Homo sapiens: one gene and its partners. The protein of the gene in region 4 purifies or fractionates together with the protein of the main gene of each other region. This does not show direct contact. Each region holds a gene or a part of one and is shown on either strand. Other genes may lie near its edges.

Region 1 (3,500 bases), on a different chromosome or scaffold from region 4:
TCCCAACTGGAAGCCAGTTGGTCATAAGTTCTAGAGGCCCATACTTTCGACTGCTGTTGTGGGGGGAGTCCGTCTGGGGGACTGAACCCCCAACCTTTGGGATCCAGCACTATCTCCAAGTAGATGGTATCGGAACTGAATCAGAGGACACCCAGTCGGTGTCCACTGCTTGCTGTATGGGGAAAACCCCCCACACCTTTGTCACAGAAGCCTTCTTCCGTGAGGATGACTGCCGTGATGAGAACAGAGGAGAAACACAGTCAGAGGCTTCCCTACACAAGGGCTCCATGAGCCATTCTGCAATCTCAGCCTGGAATGCTGCGTCACTGGGCAAATATACCAAAAATACTATCCTCAGGTGACAAACACACACTTCTGAGAACTAGCAAACTCTTGGGTGCTTAAAGTGGATCAGGCTATCCTAATTCAGTGAACTTCTGCTCTAACAGACTGACTGAACATGGGAAAAAGATGCCATGATACCAGCAAAACTTACCAAGAATTTCATAGTCTTCGAGGATTCACTTCAAGAGGGTTATGATGCCTATTTTGGGAGTTTAAAAATGGGTGTATTTTTGGTATAAGTGATTTTTTTCATTTAACCTAAAACTCTCTATTAATCAACAAGGGTTAAAAAAAAAACCAGTGCTGATCAAGAGGTTTGTGTTTTGCAGACATATCACAGATCTGCACAGGGTCAGAGGTTCCTTGGATATCTTCCACTTTAGCAGGCACCAAACTGTTTTCCTACTTCTCAGTCCCCCTAGAAGTTCATAAAAACTCATGTTTTTCCACATTTGCAACAACACTTGATATTATTACACTCTTTCCATTTTGCTTTAATTATTAGAAAGTTACCAGGAAGCTCATTAAACTATAAACTACTTAAGGTGCAATCTGTGTCTGTGTCCTAGACCCAACAAACTTTCTATATCACAGTCATCAATAAATGTTGAAGAGGCTGAACATTAAAATCAGTTTCTGAAAAGACACACTGTTAACCCTTTCGTAAACAGCAGATGGGAAGGCGTGTGTTTTGGCATTAGCAAAAACAATGGAGTAGCCCAGCCTCTTCTCTAACTGGAAAGAAGAGAAGCCTTTCATGTGCCTCGGGAGGGAGACAGATTTAAAAGACTCAGCAGCTAAAACGTATCTGGACTCTGATCCTTGAAGGCCAGTGGGTCTTGAATGAAAGAATGCAAAAGAAATCTCTGAGCTAGAGAGCCCTACTAGAGAAGTGAGTCTTCAGCGGAAAGACCAATGCCTCCACGGGCAGCTGGTACTGGGCGAGGGCAGAGGGCAGGCTGGCTGGAGCCAGGGGCGACCTCGGGGGCAGCCCCAGAGATGGGAAAAGACTCTACCCGGCCGCCTCCTTCTCTCAGTCCCTATCAAGCAGCGCCAGAAGGCGGCAGCAAGCACTGGCCTGGAAAGCTGGGTTTTAATCCCAGCTCCGCTCCTAATTCTGGGGTTTAATCCCAGCTCCGCTCCTAATTCTGGGGTTTAATCCCAGCTCCGCTCCTAATTCTGGGGTTTAATCCCAGCTCCGCTCCTAATTCTGGGGTTTAATCCCAGCTCCGCTCCTAATTCTGGGGTTTAATCCCAGCTCCGCTCCTAATTCTGGGGTTTAATCCCAGCTCCGCTCCTAATTCTGGGTTTTAATCCCAGCTCCGCTCCTAATTCTGGGGTTTAATCCCAGCTCCGCTCCTAATTTGCCATACTATTCAAGTCACTCTTCCTATCTGGCCTCAGCTGAGCTAAACTTCAAAAATCGCATCCACTCGTACGTTCTGAAAAAGCTGTGCTGGCAGGTGAAGTGTAAGCTCACTTGGATTCCCTGTTGTCCCCTCAAACTCTACAGTACTCATGAGGAATCCCCTAAACCAGCTTTCCCCAGCCACCCAGCCTTGATCTTGAAACTACTGCTGACTCCTCTCCTCTCTGGTCTCCCACACACATCAGTCCCTAAGCCGCATCACACCTTTTCTCAAAGAAAGACCCTGACAACCCCCCACACCACCAGCACAGCTGAAGTGCTTATTAAAGCAGATTCCAGGGCCGCCCCCAGACCTCGGTCCAGGTCTGTGTTTAACAAGCACCTCAGATCTACTGCCCGGTGGACTTGTCCTCTGGGTCCAACAAGCCAGCCCTCACCTTCCACTCCCACACTCCCTCCCCATGAAGTCCAAATCTCCAGCAACAGCACTTCCTGAGACTCTCTGCCTTTGGTCTTCCCCCAGATTTATCCTGTATTTGGCCGCCACACTCTTTTTTTTTTCTTATGTCCCCGAGAAAACTGCAGAAGTTTTTAATGCATTTATCATGCATTCTACAGATAAGTTTTTAATGCATTTATCATGCATTCTACAGGTAACTTTCCCCAGGAAAATTCAGCCATCAGTTTTGTCCATGTTGTTAATATATACGACACCCATATGTTATAGCATAGAGTCACAGAGGGTTCATATTCAAGCTCTTCCGTTGATTATTTAGGTGACCATAGTCAATTTACTTAATCTCTCTAAATTTCGTTTTATTGTTATTTCAATGGTTTTTTGGGCAACAGCTGGTATTTGGTCACATGGATAAGTTCTTCAGTGGTGACTTCTGAGATTTTGGTGTACCCGTCACCCAAGCAGTGGACATTGTACCCGATGTGTAGTCTTTTATCCCTCACCCCAGAGTCCATTATATCATTTTTATGCCTTTGCGTCCTCATAGCTTAGCTCCCCAGACTCATCTTTTTAATAATGAAAATAAAAATAGCAGGCTGGCGTGGTGGCTCACGCCTGTAATCCCAGCACTTTGGGAGGCTGAGACGAGTGGATCTTCTGAGGTCAGGAGTCTGAGACTAGCCCGGCCAACATGGCGAAACCCTGTCTCTACTAAAAATACAAAAATTATCCGGGCGTGGTGGTGCATGCCTATAATCCCAGCTACTTGGGAGGCTGAGGCATGAGAATCGCTTGAACCTGGGAGGCAGATGTTGCAGTGAGCCAAGATTGCGCCACTGCACTCCAGCCTGGGCAACAGAGCGAGGCTCTGTCTCAAAAAAAAATAGAAAAGAAAAACAGCTATGTTTATTGACTGCTTACTAATATACCAGGCATACATACTAGAACCTAATCTCAATTCTTTCATAACCCTGTGAGGCATCAGTGTTATCCTCATTTTAAAGATGAGAAAATTGGGGCTTAGAAAAGTCAAGTATCTCTTCTGGGTCTTTGTTGGCAGGAAAAAAAGAGAATTTTTTTCAATTAAAAAAACAAAGTCAAGTAAATTGCCCAAGGTCATATAATAAGCTACAGTCAGGACTCAACCCAAGGCTCTTCTGCCCCTAAAGCCCACTCAGGCAGGGGCAGCCTGTCCCGCGCACATGGCCTGCTGTGTCAGACGCCTTCGACAACTGCCCGACATTCATCACAGTCAGGGCTCACCAGAGGATGAGCCCTACACTCCTTCCACTGCAGGAACAAAAGTCCAGCCAAACTTTACAACGGTCC
Region 2 (3,500 bases), on a different chromosome or scaffold from region 4:
TATTTTCTTGTGGCCTTAATCCCAGAGAAGGTAAATTTTAATTGATAAACTACATATGTACCTTACCACTAAATCAAAGATAAAGTGGATAATAACTTCGAAACTCCATCAAATAATCTCAACTAGGTAACTAAAACAGAGTTAGAAAGCTTCCACTAAAAATATTCGAATATCTATCCTAAGAACCCGTTAGTAAAACTTAAATAGCCTGGAGATTCTGGATAATGGTCATAACCATAACTATAGAGGCCTATGAGTAAGGATCTTGGTTTTTGATATAATGAGTCTTACACTATTTAAAATGTTATATGCACACACATGTGCATGACAAGAAGAAATCAAGCTACATGGTCACTGGTTTTTTATTTTTATTTTTTTCATTATAATGGCCACCTGTACTAGGAGAGAAAGTCCCTGAAAGCACAAATGTTTTAAATTTGAAGATAACCTATAAGATACCTCCAGTCATCAAATTCTGTCTTGGATCTAATTATTCTAGGAGAAGTCATTCGCAATGTCTCTGAAGTCTGAGATGCTGAAGGGAGGTGGCACCGATAGCAAGCTCCCTGAGCTCGATTTAGAAAAAGCTGACAATTATGTCTGTTACGTAAGGGGAAGATGGCCTGACTTCCTAGTCACCTGAACGCTCAGCTAACTGGCCAAATGGCAAAGAAGTATGAAGGTGGCAGCAAAGAGCATGGAGATCACTTAGGCGTCTTCAAGACAGACAAGTAGATCTAACACTATTGGTTAGGGTCTCCATTCTAAATCTAGAATCTATATCTAAATCTATAGTCACATAATGCATTTTTTTCCATGCTATCTCTTGTTATTTATGAAGGATACATGATGCAAGGGACACTCTGCAAGACCTTATATTTGAGAGTTTTAGGGACCAGTGAGAAATTTCTATTCCTCATGAGGCTGTGAACTCCCTGAAGGCAGACTCTGTATCGGATTAGGCTCATATCCCTGTAGACTCCCCTTGCTACCCAACGCATTTTCAAACAGTAAATGCTCAATATACATTCACTGAAGAAAAAGATGAGTTTTTAATAGTACACATCTTGTAATAACTCACCAAGCAGTGGTTTTGCTAAAACAGACAACGGTTTTTTTAATTTTAATTTTTGGCAGAGAAACTCTGTTTCTGTAACTAGCACTTACTCACATAACTAGCATATAATATCAAAGCCTAGTTTAATATCCAACTGTTTCTTCCACAGATGATTTACCACAAATAACACTACCATAATAAGGTCTCCCAAAAAAGTGTTAAGTAAATAATGTTTGATGTAGCTTTAGTTAGAGGTCTCTAACAGAAAACACAAAAGTATTTTATTTCTTTTCTCAAATATTGGGTGACCGTGTAACTTATCTTCCATACAGGGATACTTTAAGAGTAACATCATGAAGATGAAGATGATGAATGATACTGCCACCAGGATAACATGCATGAACCTAAACATTTAGTCACCCTACCTAAGGAGAACAATTATAGTAAGAACTAGCTATTCATATTACGATTTTTGTGGTTCTTATTCAGAAGTAAAGTACAGTGTCAGTTTGCACATAAACAAAGGTTAGATCCTAGAGGTTATTTCCTATGACACATCCTCAGGGGAACAAACGTCCTAATTCCGATATACTACAACAAATAAGCAGAAACTTACCTCTGGTTTGGGGACAAAAGCTTGTCCTGGAATCGTAAAGATGTGTCGAACATTGCAGAGGTACTGAGCCATAACAGAGAGGCGACTACGCTGTTTGCTTCCTGTATTGGCTGCAAGTCTCTAGAGAGAGACAAAAATGAATTTTAGCAAATAATTAGTCCAGCCTGATTAGATGAAAAAGAGTCAACATTCCATTATTTCTGAACACTAGGTGGACTTTTTGAGGCAAATTTGAAAAGAATGGGCTATCTGACACATGACACACAGCAAACATGGGGAATATTTTCCTCCAACATCAACTGAGGTACACCTAAGAAATGTGAATTATGTCATATATAATGCACTACAAAAATAAGAACATTTGCTCTACCAATGGCTGTTGGGATTTTTGAACCACTGTTATATTCTATAGCAGAAGGTCCTACATAAAACAAGCAATCAATAAATACTTGATGAAGAAATTAGCAAGCATAATGAAAAATGAAAGATGCTTAAACACTTAATTTTCTGAATCACCCCAATATATGAATGAACATTTTAAATGGTGTGCTTTTCAAATTCACTTAATATAGTAAAACCTTGAGTATTCAGAACCCTTGGGAAATTGGCTGTTCTTGACAAATAATTTTTGTAAAACCTAGTAATTTATTCTTTTAAACACTCAAACATTTTTGTTTTGCAATTAATTAGGTATATTTCAATTAATTCATAAATGCAATGCAATTTCAATTAAAAGTCCAACAAGATTTTAAAAATTAATTTCCATATGTATTATATATATATTTAAATTCCATGTAAAATTTATATAAGGCCAAGAATGGCCAGGACGCTCCTGAAGAATACCAACAATGATAGGGGAGCTCACCCTACCAGACATCAAATTGATGCAGGCCCAGACAGATCAATAAAACAAATGCCTCAGAAACAGACCCAAGCACATTAGATATTTAACACACGATAGATGCGATGTAGCAACTGCTAACAGAAAAGGAAGGATCATTCGGTAAGTGACACCGGTGTAATTAGATATCCATAGGAGAAAACAGTAGGTCCTTATCTCATGCCATAACCAAAAAAACTCTAAGCAAATTAACAATAAGTGAAAAGCAAAATTTTAAAATTTTTATAAGCAAATATCTATGACTTCCATGGTAGGGAAGAATTTCCTAAAGATGTAAAAGCAGAGCTATATAAGAAAAGACAGACAGACAGACACACACACATATATGTATATATGTATGTATATACATCTTTCTAAAATATATGTATCTATGTATGTCTTTTCTTATATAGCTTTGCTTTGGGGACAAAATATATATATATGTGTGTGTATATATATGTGTGTATATATATGTGTGTATATATATGTATATATATACATGTGTATATATGTGTGTATATATATGTATATATATACATGTGTATATGTATATGTGTGTATATATGTGTGTATATATATGTGTATATATGTGTGCATATATGTGTGTGTGTGTATATATATATGTATATATACATATATATATATTTTTTTGATCTTGGCTGGGAACAGTGGCTCATGCCTGTAATTCCAGTGCTTTGGGAAGCCAAAACAGGTGGACTGCCAGAGGCCAGGAGTTCAAGATCAGCCTGGGCAACAGAGCAAGACGCCCTCCTCAACAACAATAACAACAAAAACTACTGTACTTTATTAAAATTTTTAATTTCTGTATAATAAAACATTATAAATGTTTGTAAGTCACAGACTAAGAGAAAGTATTTGAAATTTATAGTGTTCAGAATACAGATGAAATTCCTGTACATCAATAATCATAAGATAAATAGCTAATA
Region 3 (3,500 bases), on a different chromosome or scaffold from region 4:
TCCTCGGCCTCCCAAAGTGCTGGGATTACAGGCATGAGCCACCGCGCCCTGCAGAACTGTCCTTATTTTTTATCTTGTCTGTATGTACTTGATGTGCTGACACATTGTTTCAGCTAAGCTTTCCCAGTTCATTCATTATGCTCACATTTGTGCTCACAGCCACCCAGACCTGGGAGACATACTGGACTCAGATTTGCCTCCCACCCCAAGCATCCCCTAATTTCATCAATGACCTCCTTTCATGTTCTCTCAGGTTCATGTCTCTCTGGCCCAGTATGTAGCCAGCTTTCCTGTGTCCATTACTAAAAATCTCTCTTCTTTCACTCCCTCCTACCTCAGGGTTACCTTCTATACACCTCCTAAAACCATCCCCCAAACACCATTTTCATCATAGTAATCTCCTGCATCACAGGAATCCTCCAGGTCTACCTATTCCTTCAGAAGAAAACTTTTAATATTTAGCAATTAAAACCCTCATGAGGAAAATTTAAAAGGTTCTGTGGTTAAATAAGCCAGTAAAGCATTAACATACGTATTACAACCACTTTTTAGAAGGCAGCAATGTGGATTAAATGCTCTAAAAAGTCCTGCAGTAAAGCAAACATATTTTAACTTTGTTTAGTCTAACATTTCCATATTTATTTGAGTGCCTAACATGTTTTTTTCAAGTAATGTCTCAACGTAACATTAAATTAATGTTCTATGAAACACTTTTAGAAGTGCTGTTTTATTTTACCTTAAAAACACTCTAATCCAGCCGGGTGCAGTGGTTCACGCCTGTAATCCCAGCATGTTGGGAGGCTGAGGCGGGTGGATCATCTGAGGTCAAGAGCTCGAGACCAGCCTGGCCAACATGGCGAAACCTCATCCCTGCTAAAAACACAAAAAATAGCCAGGCGTGGTGGCGGGCGCCTATAATCCCAGCTACTCGGGAGGCTGAGGCAGAAGAATCACTTCAACCCAGGAGGTGGAGGTTGCAGTGAGCCAAGATCGTACCATTGCACTCCAGCCTGGGTGACAGAGTGAGATTCCATCTCAAAAAAAAATAAAATAAAATAAACACAACAAAAAAACTTCTAATCCAATTACAGGTTATAGAAGTGCTGTTTTAATGCCTGGTTTTGAAAAATTGGCATAAAAATCTTCCTTTTTTTTTTTTTTTTTTTTAATCTATGAACATTCTGTTTGGTCCTGTAACCTCTCCTATTCAGGTCCTTTCATTGCCTCCCTAACCCTGGATTAATAATGCCAGTGATGTTATTTGACCAGTTACAGGTCAGCCCCTATGCTTTCTGTACACTGGGTAACCACCTGTCGCACGACAGCTTCAGAAACTTTCCCGACCTCAAATGATCCTACCACAACACAAAGCAAAAAGAGGTTGGAAAAAAATCATTCTTTTCATCCTAATTTGGTTCATCCTTTGTCCTTTCACTTTTGGTCTCAGAGATCAAGCCTGGTTTTTACATTTGTGCATTTGATTTAAGAGGCGTCTTGCCAAATACATGTTTAGGTTTTGATGTCTGTTTTTTTTTTTGTTTTGGTAACCTGGAACACCAGTACAAATCAGAGTTTTCTACCTACCGGGGAAGTTTCTCAACTGGGATGCTGGCATCTTGAGTTCCAGGTTCTGGAGCACTGAAGTAAATAATATTAGAAAAGAAAGATTGTTATTGGCATAATAAAAAATAAAGAAACAACATAACTCAGTTTGTATATTTGCCTGGCAGTATGTGGTATAAAACTCCTAATTAATACATGCTCACTTGGAAGGGCATTAGAAGGAAGGACCCCAAGCCATTAATTACCAGTGGTGCTGGGCACAGTGGCTCATGCCTGTAATCCCAGCATTTGGTGAGGCCAAAGTGGGAGGACTGCTTGAGGCCAGAAGTTCAAGACAACCCTCGGCAATACAGTAAGACTGCATTTCTACCAGAAATACAAAAATTAGCTGAGTGTGGTGATGTGTGCCTATAGTCCTAGCTACTTGGGAGGCTGAGGCAGGAGGATTGCTCGAGCCCAGGAGTTGGAGGCTGCAGTAAGGTGTGATTGTGCCACTGTACTCCAGCCTGGGAAACAGAGCAAGAACCTGTCTCAGAAAAAAAAAAATCACCAGTGGTTGTACTGCCAGTGAGGGAATGCATGTGTGGGGAGGGCTGGAGTGGCTGGGTGTGCCAAGGGGGAACTTCATGTTTACCTTTATACATCATCATCATCATCATTTGTATCCTCTGCAATGACATTATATAGTCCTTATACAATTTATACTGTTTTTAAAAGGCTGAGTGGAATTTTTCTCAATATTGTGTCTACCCTCAAATTTTTTCCTCATTGTAATAATAGTACATGTTCATAATAGAAATATAGGAAAATTCAGAAAGATATAAAGAAGAAATTAAAAATTACCCATAATCCCTCCACTCCTGATATTCCTTATTAACATTTTGTTGTATTTTCTTCTGGTCTTTTAACTATATACAGATACACGAACTCATTGTGTGTACAAATTTAGGACCCTGTGGTTTTCACTTAACACTGTAAGTTGTGAGCAAAATATTTCTTTTATCACATGGCTATATTTAGTTTTTTTGTTTGTTTGTTTGTTTTTTGAGACAGGGTCTCCCTCTGTCACCCAGGCTGTAGTGCAGTGGCATGATCTCAGCTCACTGCAGCCTTGACTTCCCAGGCTCAAATAACCCTCCCACCTCAGCCTCCCTAGTAGCTGGGACTACAGGCATGTGCCACCACACCCAGCTAATTTTTGTGGTTTTTTGTTTTGTTTTGTTTTTTTGTAGGACAGGTTTCTCACTGTGTTGCCCAGGCTGGTCTTGAACTCCTGAACTCAAGCAGTCTCCCCACCTTGTAACCCCAAAGTGCTGGGATTACAGGCATGAGCCACTGCACCCAGCCTTGTATTTAGTCTTATTTCTCATAAATATCCATGGGAATCTTTGATGAATGTTCAATTTCCTCACATTTATGTTCAACCTAAAGGAGAAAACAACCTATACTTATTCTGTAGTGTGGTATAATTACCCTTTTCCTGATAAAGCTGGACAAATTGGACTCTTGTAATTCTCAGCCACAACTCCACAAGAGGTACATCGAGTTTTAAATAAGCTACCTGAAAAATACATATGAAGCAAATCCAGAATTTAGTATAATCAAGAGCAACCTTCTCCATGTCTAAAAGGGTATAAGATACTTTATTTTTCACACTTCATTTCATGTTTTGGTCTCACCCAGTTACCCAGGCTGGAGTGTAGCAGTACGATCATAGCTCACTGCAGCTTCCAACTCATGGGCTCAAGCGATCCTCCCACCTTTGCCTCCTGAGCAGCTGGGACTATAGGTGTGCACCGCCACACTGAGCCATACTTCATTTTAGCAAATGGGCCTACCCTAGCTTTAGCTTTCATGGGAAACAGAGGCATGCAGTACTCTTAAGCCAGTCAAGAGCATATGCCCTCAAGGACTTTATAATCTGGAGGAAAAATAAA
Region 4 (3,500 bases):
CCACTGAGTCCCGGGCACGGGTCAGGCTAACCGCGGGAGGAATTTAATCTAGAGTTTAACTTGTGTGGCTGACTCCACTGAGTCCCGGGCACGGGTCAGGCTAACCGCGGGAGGAATTTAATCTAGAGTCTAACTTGCGTGGCTGTCCCCACTGAGTCCCGGGCACGGGTCAGGCTAACCGCGGGAGGAATTTAATCTAGAGTTTAACTTGCGTGGCTGTCCCCACTGAGTCCCGGGCACGGGTCAGGCTAACCGCGGGAGGAATTTAATCTAGAGTTTAACTTGCGTGGCTGTCCCCACTCAGTCCCGGGCACAGGCCAAGCTAACCACGGGAGGAATTTAATCTAGAGTTTAACTTTAAATCAAGAATAGTAATCATCCCTCCCTAAAACGAATCCCCTCCTTGCTCAAGACCGAAGCCACCTCTGTGAAGCTTGTGAAGGGCCACAAGATTAGGATGATGGGAGGGGCCTGAATTCTGCTCAGATGTAGGTGTCCTGAGGAGAACCAGCCCGCAGGCCTTGCTTCCCCAGCTTGCCCTGCTGTAATTCCCTACTGCTCAGGACTCACGCAGCCAGAGGTCACGAGATTTGTGACCGCCCCAATTGCTCCCCAATAAGATAACGTCAATAGTACAACCTAAGAATGGTCTTTTGGGATGTTTTTCAGACTTTTGAGTTCTGGCAACCTACAGACTCCACCTGGACCTGAGACTCATGACTCAGCTGATCCCGTGGCTCCACGCAGAGGCGGACTCAGGGGACAAAAATCGTTGACACCCCATGGTCCGTCTGCAGCCGATCAGCAGCAGGCATTCCCTAGCCCCTGCCTGCCAAATTGCCTGTAGAAACTGTAGCCTCTGAGTTCTCTGGGAGATTGAGTTGAATAATAACTCCAGCCTTTCTGCTTGGCTAGCTCTGTGTTAAACTCTTTCTCTACTGCAATACCACAATTGCAGTGAATTGGTTTTGTCTGTGCAGTGGGCAGGAAGAACCCATAGGTGGATTACACTGAGGAGAAACAGATCTGGAAGGTGGTGGAGGCTCCAACTTCTGTACTTCTGGCAGCTCAGAAAGAAGCTGATTCAGCAGGTCTGTGTTAGCTCAACATAGTCTGCTCTACTCCAGAGATAAAAGCTGAGAAGGCTTCTCTGGGAGCTTCTGTGTTTTCACAGCGTGTTCTCTCCCTCCTTCAACTGTGGCATGGGGCATGCAGTCCCTACCCAGCCTGGGTGCTCCTCACACCCTGCTTACAGGTTCTTCCCCCAGTAGCCCTTACGGTACCCACGGACACACATGGATGCAGGGTTGTGATCTTGACCCCTTTGCAAGGCCCATGTTCCATGAGCCAGGTTATATGATTTCAGCATCCCCGCTTACAGTCAGGACGTCATTGTAATCTTCATTTTCTTTACACTGATGGAAGATATACTCCACTCCTAGGAAAATGTCTCCCAAATTGTAGTCATCTGGAAAATCAGGCTGGGGAAATTCACCTGCTTTCAGATGCTAAAAAATGAGGAAATGTAGACTTAGAGAACAGGAAACGTAACCCAACCACAGGTTGACAGGTTTCATCCTGGTTAATCCCAAGGCAAATAAGCACTTATCTCTGAGCCAAATCACTTTTTTTTTTTTTTTTTTTGAGACGGAGTTTCACTCTTGTTGCCCAGGCTGCAGTGGAATGGCGCGATCTCGGCTCACTGCAACCTCTGCCTCCCGGGTTCAAGTGATTCTCCTGTCTCAGCCTCCTGAGTAGCTGGGATTACAGGTGCATGCCACCGTGCCCAGCTAATTTTTGTATTTCTTTTTTTTTTTTTTTTCCTGAGACAGAGTTTCCCTCTTGTTGCCCAGGCTGGAGTGTCCGCCTCCTGGGTTCAAGCAATTCTCCTGCCTCAGCCTCCCGAGTAGCTGGGACTACAGGCATGCGCCACCACGCCCGGCTAATTTTGTATTTTTAGTAGAGACTGGGTTTCTCCGTGTTGGTCAGGCTGGTCTCAAACTCCCAACCTCAGGTGATCCACCCGCCTTGGCCTCCGAAAGTGCTGGGATTACAGGCGTGAGCCACCGCGTCTGGCCTAATTTTTGTATTTTTTAGTAGAGATGGGGTTTCATCATATGGGTCAGGCTGGTCTCGAACTCCTGACCTCAGGTGATCTGCCTGCCTCAGCCTCCCAGAGTGCTGGGATTACAGGCGTGAGCCACTGTGCCAGCCACCCAAATCACTCTTAAGATGCATGTCTCAGGCCAGAGTGGCAGCTGGGCCTGTGGCGGGTGGGTTGCCCAGCCAACCGTACACAAGTGCCCTAAATTGTTTCCATTGTGAAAATTGTCAGAATAGCCAGGCGTGGTGGCTCACAGCTGTAATCCCAGCACTTTGGGAGGCCGAGGCGGGCAGATCAAGAGGTCAGGGGTTTGACACCAGCCTGACCAACATGGTGAAACCCCATCTCTACTAAAAATACAAAAATTAGCCAGGTGTGATGGCACATGCCTGTAACCCCAGCTACTCGGGAGGCTGAGGCAGGAGAATCGCTTGAACCTGGGAGGCGGAGGTTGCAGTGAGCCCCTAGACTGCGCCATTGCACTTCAGCCTGGCTGACAGAGCAAGACTCCGTCTCAAAAAAAAAAAGGAATTTGTCAGAATAAAAATGGAGCCATTAGGGTTATACAAACAAACCAAAAAACCTGACAAATAGAGCTGGGGAAAGCTATGAAGAGAGGATTCTCATACTTCCATGCCTGATAACAAAAACTGTCACTAAAGATGGCAAAAACTGCAACAAAGGCTATGACAACCTTACACACATACAAAACTGCAACCTTGCACAAAGGCTATGACAACCTTACACACACACACGAAACTGCAACCTTGCACAAAGGCTATGACAACCTTACACACACACAAAACTGCAACCTTGCACAAAGGCTATGACAACCTTACACGCACACAGAAACTTCTGCAAGGATAATCTGCCCAGCAACTGCCTGTCTAACCTTGGACGGACATTAATCTTGTTATTGATCTTTGCAACCAAGGATCATTATCTCAAAACAATTATGTTTTTTTCCTTTAAAAACCTTTGCCAGGCGGGGCTCAGTGGCTCACGCCTGTAATCCCAGCACTTTGGAAGGCAGAGGCGGGTAGATCACCTGAGGTCAGGAGTTCTAGACCAGCTTGGCCAACATGGTGAAACCCCAACTTTACTAAAAATACAAAAAAAAAAAAATTAGCCAGATGTGGTGGTGGGCGCCTGTAATCCCAGCTACTCGGGAGGCTGAAGCAGGAGAATCGCTTGGACCTGAGAGGTGGAGGTTGCAGTGAGCCGAGATTGTGCCATTGCACTCCAGCCTGGGTGACAGAGCAAGCCTCCGTCTCAAAAAAAAAAAAAAAAACAAAACCCTTGCCTTCCTTTACCTCCCTGAATATGCGAATATCCACACAGTCTACTATGGCATGTGGCATGTATTTTCACTGCAATGCTCTATCCCAAATAAACA

The links.
Region 1: the proteins of YBEY (region 4) and TRMU purify together in Homo sapiens (affinity purification with mass spectrometry; 2 studies listed by BioGRID and IntAct, with this or other methods). This does not show direct contact.
Region 2: the proteins of YBEY (region 4) and TFB1M purify together in Homo sapiens (affinity purification with mass spectrometry; 2 studies listed by BioGRID and IntAct, with this or other methods). This does not show direct contact.
Region 3: the proteins of YBEY (region 4) and SIRT5 purify together in Homo sapiens (affinity purification with mass spectrometry; 2 studies listed by BioGRID and IntAct, with this or other methods). This does not show direct contact.

What each region holds. Positions count from the first base shown.
Region 1 is NC_000022.11:46,338,714-46,342,213, reverse strand, and holds part of TRMU (mitochondrial tRNA-specific 2-thiouridylase 1), read right to left. Parts: intron 1-3,500. UniProt on the Homo sapiens protein: Catalyzes the 2-thiolation of uridine at the wobble position (U34) of mitochondrial tRNA(Lys), tRNA(Glu) and tRNA(Gln).
Region 2 is NC_000006.12:155,283,485-155,286,984, forward strand, and holds part of TFB1M (dimethyladenosine transferase 1, mitochondrial), read right to left. Parts: intron 1,794-3,500; coding exon 1,674-1,793; intron 1-1,673. UniProt on the Homo sapiens protein: Mitochondrial methyltransferase which uses S-adenosyl methionine to dimethylate two highly conserved adjacent adenosine residues (A1583 and A1584) within the loop of helix 45 at the 3-prime end of 12S rRNA, thereby regulating the assembly or stability of the small subunit of the mitochondrial ribosome.
Region 3 is NC_000006.12:13,595,101-13,598,600, reverse strand, and holds part of SIRT5 (NAD-dependent protein deacylase sirtuin-5, mitochondrial), read right to left. Parts: intron 3,125-3,500; coding exon 3,037-3,124; intron 1,639-3,036; coding exon 1,585-1,638; intron 874-1,584; exon of another isoform or gene 737-873; intron 1-736. UniProt on the Homo sapiens protein: NAD-dependent lysine demalonylase, desuccinylase and deglutarylase that specifically removes malonyl, succinyl and glutaryl groups on target proteins.
Region 4 is NC_000021.9:46,289,342-46,292,841, reverse strand, and holds part of YBEY (endoribonuclease YbeY), read right to left. Parts: intron 1,509-3,500; coding exon 1,380-1,508; coding exon of another isoform or gene 1,353-1,379; exon of another isoform or gene 324-1,352; intron 1-323. UniProt on the Homo sapiens protein: Single strand-specific metallo-endoribonuclease involved in rRNA maturation.